Linked DNA regions of Homo sapiens: region 1 is linked to region 2. Evidence: fine-mapped expression QTL. A gene starts in region 2. The other region holds a variant in brackets. All regions are shown on one strand. Distances are from middle to middle. Region 1 overlaps PRC1 (protein regulator of cytokinesis 1). Region 2 holds the start of VPS33B (VPS33B late endosome and lysosome associated).

The links. PIP is the estimated chance that this variant, and not a neighbour inherited with it, causes the effect. A credible set is the group of variants that fine-mapping cannot tell apart.
Region 1: its variant is the best candidate, but not a certain one, in a credible set for the expression of VPS33B in whole blood (TOPMed, PIP 0.60).

Annotation. Positions count from the first base shown.
Region 1 is chr15:90,984,919-90,987,830 of GRCh38, reverse strand. All of the region lies in intron 1 of PRC1 (protein regulator of cytokinesis 1), which reads left to right. PRC1-AS1 (PRC1 antisense RNA 1) reads right to left here. Exons shown (of 4, transcript NR_051984.1): 4 at 1-201. Among named protein-coding and RNA genes, the nearest start is that of PRC1, 8.2 kb to the left of the region's middle. The variant A/G (reference allele first, on the strand shown) is at 1,609.
Region 2 is chr15:91,021,084-91,023,995 of GRCh38, reverse strand. VPS33B (VPS33B late endosome and lysosome associated) reads left to right here and starts at 1,402. Exons shown (of 23, transcript NM_018668.5): 1 at 1,402-1,842. The coding sequence starts at 1,747. It overlaps VPS33B-DT (VPS33B divergent transcript), which reads right to left and starts at 1,374. Exons shown (of 4, transcript NR_110104.1): 1 at 1,256-1,374; 2 at 25-683. RefSeq lists enhancers at 1,438-1,847, 1,702-2,318.

The sequences.
Region 1 (2,912 bases), 36 kb after region 2:
GCTGGTGACTTGTAGAACCACCGAAAGCTCTGAGACAGAAAGGGGCTAATGAAAGTCTCTAGTTGCAGTTGGGTGTGGATGGCACACAAAGACCTTAAGTGTTTAGGTGATTTGCTGCAGGCTTCTCGGCCGACTGGAAGCAGAGCACATCTAGATTGTAGTTTCTCTGGTGCCAGGGCAGTCTTAGTTGTCCTGTTATACCTAAGAAAAGGGAGAAAAATTTCTATTCTTTAAATGTTCTGTAAAGCAGACTAATTGTGATAATTTTTAAAGTAAGCTGTTCTTAAAAGATAAGATACAGAAGCCAGTTAAATTTGTATTTTAGATAAATAATTTTTTGTTAAAATAAGCTTTTGGTAATTGAAGAATAACATACATTCAGAAACGTACAGAAATCAAGTGTAAACTCAGTGAATTGTTCACAGTTGATGCACCTGTGTAAGCAGCAACCCAGAAGCCCTCTACCAGTCACTGCCTCCCCTGAGCCAAAAGAACTACTATCCTGACTTCTGAAAGCATTGATTAGTTTGGCCTGGTTTTGTTTTTGCTTTTTTTGTTTTCGTTTTTGAGATAGGGTGTTGCTTTGGAGTGCAGTGATCATAGCTCACTGCAGCCTCATCCTCTCAGGCTCAAGCAATCCTCCCACCTCAGCCTCCTGAGTAGCTGGGACTATAGGCATACGTCACCGTGCCCGGCTAATTTTTTTTTTTTTTTTTTTTTTAAGACGCAGAGTCTCACTATGTTGCCCAGAATGATCTGAAACTCCTGGGCTCAAACAGTTTTCCTGCCTCGGCCTTGCAAGGTGCTAGGAATACAGGCGTGAACTACCGTGCCTGGCCAGTTTTGCCTGTTTTTGAACTCTCTGTCAACGGAATCACATAGTGATACACATTTGCATATCTAGTGGCATTTGCTCAGCCTAAAGTGTTTTTTTTTTCCTTCCTCTTCCCCTTACAACTATTTTTTAGTTGTTTATTTTACTTCATTAAAAAAATGAAAAGATTTGAGGTATAATTCATACACAGTAAAACAGACTCGCTTTACAGGTAGTTTCAATTGTATACTGTTGTATAATCGCCATCAAGATCTAGAACTATTTCATCACCCCAAAAAAGTAAAATAAATAAATAAATAAAATAGAAATATAATAATTTGAGCTTTATCCATATCATGTGTAGTGTGTTCATTTTCTTTTTTGACAGTTTCGCTCTGTCGCCCAAGCTGGAGTACAGTGGTACAATCTTGGCTCACTGCAACCTTGGCTCACTGCAAACCCTGCCTCCCGGGTTCAAGCGATTCTCCTGCCTCAGCCGCCCCAGTAGCTGGGATTACAGGCGCACCACCACACCCAGCTAATTTTTTGTGTTTTTAGTAGAGACAGGGTTTCCCCATGTTGGCCAGGCTGGTCTCCTGACCTCAAGTGATCTGCTCCCCTCGGCCTCCCAGAGTCCTGGAATTACAGGTGTGAGCCACTGCACCCAGCCAGTTTGTTCATTTTCATTGCTGCATTAGTGCATTGTAGGAATGTACTATTCATTCTGTTGATAGACATCTAGGCTGTTTCTGTTTCCCTGCTATTATGAGTAGTGCTTCTCTAACCATTCTCAT[A/G]TATGTCTTTGGTGAACGTATGTGTTCATTTCTGCTAGGTATGTATGTAGAGGTAGAACTGCTGGGTTCAGCTTTAGTAGATAGACTGCCAACAGTTTTTAAAATAGTTGTACCAATTTACACCATGCCAGCAGCATATGAAAGTTCTCACTTTTCTATATACTCACCAACACTTAATGCTGTCTTTTTAACTTTAGCCATTCTTTGAGCTGCTAGTTGTAATTTAAGAAGAATAGGCCAGGCATGGTAGCTCACGCCTGTAATCCCAGCAATTTGGGAGGCCGAGGCAGGTGGATCACTTGAGGTCAGGAGTTCGAGACCAGCGTGGCCAACGTAGTGAAACCCCATCTCAATGGCTTTTTAACTTTAGCCATTCTTTGAGCTGCCGGTTGCAATTTAAGAATACTAGGCCCGGGCGCAGTGGCTCATGCCTGTAATCCCAGCACTTTGGGAGGCCGAGGTGGGTGGATTTTTGTGTTTTTGTAAAAATACAAAAATTAGCTGGGTGTGGTGGCACACACCTGTAATCTGAGCTACTTGGGAGGCTGAAGCAGGAGAATCACTTGAACCTGGGAGGCGGAGGTTGCAGTGAGCTGAGATCTCACCACTGCACTCCAGCCAGGGCAACGGAGCGAGACTCTGTCTCAAAAAAAAAAAAGAAAATAAAAATAAATAAATTAATTAAATAAAATGGCAAGGCACAGTGGCTCACATATGTAATCCTAGCACTTTGGGAGGCCGAGGAGGGCGGATCACTTGAGGCCGGGAATTCAAGACCCACCTGGCTAACATGGCGAAACCCCAACTCTACTAAAAATACAAAAATTAGCTGGGTGTGGTAGCACCTGCCTATAGTCCCACCTACTCGGGAGGCTGAGTCAGGAGAATCATTTGAACGCAAAAGGTAGAGGTTGCAGTGAGCCAAAATTGCACCACTGCACTCCAGCCTGGGCGACAGAGCAAGATGCTGTCTCAAAAAAAAAGAAAAAACAAAAAAAAAACACCAAAAAAATAGTAATAAATTGCCAAACATTTTGCAGGAGTTTCTCACCAGCAAGTTCTTGTGTTAGTTTATTTTACCAACATCTTTTGTCCGGTTTTTCTTTAGTAAAAGTATTTATAATTCTGTATTATACTTCCATAGGTAGATCATTGTTGAAAGTCCAGAAGGTTGAGCTTCCATGATGTAATATGATATGAAATCTTGTATTGCTAGTGGCATTTGGTAGGAAAAGGGATGGGGAGTGGTTAAAGGTGAATTAAGCTGAATGCTTGTTTTCAATTTGTTTTTTTCTCGAGGCCAC
Region 2 (2,912 bases):
AAGAAAAAACAAACGGTGTCTCACTCTGTTGCCCAGGCTGGGGTGCTGTAGCATGATCGTAGCGCACTGCAGCCTCAAACTCCTGGGCTCAAGTGATCCTCCTGCCTCAGCCTCCCAAGTATCGAGATTAAAGGTGCCCACCACCATGCCTGGCTATTTTTTATGTGTTGTAGTTGACCAATCTTATCTCAAACTCCTGGCCTCAAGCAACCCCCCGACCCCGACCTGGACCTCCCAAAGTGGTGGGAATTAGAGACATGAACCATTACTCCTGGCCAAATTATTTCACCTGTAAAAACTTCAGTATGTATCTCAAAGAGATAAGGACTTGTTTTTAACAGAAATACAAGCCTGTATGACATAGAAATACAAAAAATAATAATAACATAGAAATACAATACCTGGCCCAACGTTGTGGCTCACGCCTGTAATCCCAGCACTTTGGGAGGCCAAGGCAGGCGGATCACTTGAGGTCAGGAGTTCGAGATCAGCCTGGCCAACATAATGAAACCCCGTCTCTACCAAAAATACAAAAATTAGCCGGGCATGGTGGCACTCGCCTGTAATCCCAGTCTACTCGGGAGACTGAGGCAGGAGAATCTCTTGAACCTGGGGCGGCAGGGGGGTTGTGGCGCGGAGCTTGCAGTGAGCCGAGCTCCTCCACTAGGCAAAAGGGCGAGACTCTGTCAGGAAAAAAAAGAGAAGAAAAGAAATACAATACCCGAAAAGTTTTAGTAATTCCTTAAATCAGTTATCTTTGAATTATTATCCAAAAAAGATCCACACATTGAAACATTTTGTTGATACATCTCTTAAATCTCTTTTATTCTGAAGTGTTTTCCCCTCCCACATTTCCCACTTTGCCATTTTTTTGAAGACGACAGATCATTTGTCCCATATAATTTCCTACATTTTGGATATGGTTGATTTCATACCTTTGGTGTCTTAACATATTCCTGCTAATCTCTATATAGCCTATAAACTGGTAGTTAGATCTTGAGGCTTGATTAGGTTCAATTTTTGGCAATAGGTGATGCTCTGTATTTCCTATGCATCTCACCAGGAAATGATATGATGGTATGATTGATCAGAGTTGAGGTATTGTTAGCTAGCCTGATGCATTCATTATGTCTTTTTTTTTTTTTTTTTTTTTTTTTTTGAGGCAAGGTCTAGCTTTGTTGCCCAGGCTGGGGTGCAGTAGCGCGATCGCAGTTCACTGCAACCTCCGCCTCCCTGACTCGAGCGATTCTCCCACCTCAGCCTCTGGAGTGCTGCGACCCCAGGCGCCGCCACCTAATTAATAGACGCGTTGCCTCCGTTTTTCAAATGTCCCTTTCAGGACGCCGTCCCCTTCCTGGTACGCGAAGCGCTGGGAGCGAAAGGGACTTCCGGGAGATCTAGGAAGTCGCTTCTTTTTCTGGTAGAAGGCGGGGTTCTCCTCGTACGCTGCGGAGTCTCTGCGGGGTGTAGACCGGAATCCTGCTGACGGGCAGAGTGGATCAGGGAGGGAGGGTCGAGACACGGTGGCTGCAGGTCTGAGACAAGGCTGCTCCGAGGTAGTAGCTCTCTTGCCTGGAGGTGGCCATTCATTCCTGGAGTGCTGCTGAGGAGCGAGGGCCCATCTGGGGTCTCTGGAAGTCGGTGCCCAGGCCTGAAGGATAGCCCCCCTTGCGCTTCCCTGGGCTGCGGCCGGCCTTCTCAGAACGAAGGGCGTCCTTCCACCCCGCGGCGCAGGTGACCGCTGCCATGGCTTTTCCCCATCGGCCGGACGCCCCTGAGCTGCCTGACTTCTCCATGCTGAAGAGGCTGGCTCGAGACCAGCTCATCTATCTGCTGGAGCAGGTCAGTGCTTGCCTGACGCCTTTATCGCATCTACAGTTTAGCACTCATTGGATGCACATTTCTTCCTTGCCGTGCCCCTTTGATCTTGTTCTTGGCCCCTGGTATTGTCCTTGGCGCTTCCCCAGCAGGTCCAGAATGAATCCAGGGAGTAGTAAGAGCTGTTTGGAACCTGGCCAGAGAGTTAATGGAAATCACCCCCCAACCCCGCATACAGGCAAGGGAGACACCATTAGTGCCAGGCATCCCTAGGGACGGAAAGATGGTTAAGACATCTTTGCCATTAGGGATCTTACCACTCCAGTAGGAGCTGTATGAAGCACAAATTATCACACACAGGTGGTAAATGAGTGATAGAGCTAGTGTACCCGAAGAGTTCACAGTAAGTGATCATTTCTAGTTGGGGTGATGATCTAGGAGCTTCAAGGAAGTGAGTGTGAGTAATAAGCATATTTTCTTTGGAGACTAAGCATGCTCCAGGCAGATAGATTGGTAGGAGCAAAGTTGGCAAACCAGGGAAAGACAAGGCATGTAAGGGAAGACACCCATCAGCAGTTACACAGTAGCCACTGAAAAAAATTTTTTTTCCATTTGTGGCATGAGACAATACTTGATGATTCTAATAGTGATGTGTGTGGTGGCGTAAATGGGCAACAAGAAGGCCAGTTAGGAGACCGTAGATCAGACAAGAAATAAAGGCCCACACAAAATTGGTAGCAGTGGGAATGAAGGAAAGTGATGGATTTTTAAGTTATGGTGAAAGAAAACTCAAAGACTTACTGATTGGTTATAAATGTTGAAGGAGAAGCAAAAATGAGTGAGATTTTTAACCTGGGTTATTAGGAAAATAATACTGCCACTGTGATTTTAATGGATTACTTGTGTAATCATTTAGTTATTCATTTTATGTCTGTATTCCTCATTAGACTGGAAGGTGGGCAGGGATCATGTTTGTTTTGTTCAACACTACCTAGTGAGTACCTAGCTTAGAGTCAAGCACACACCATGTGCTTAATAAATATTTGTTGTATTAACATTGAATAGAAATGAGAAAAATAATTAGAAAAAGGAAC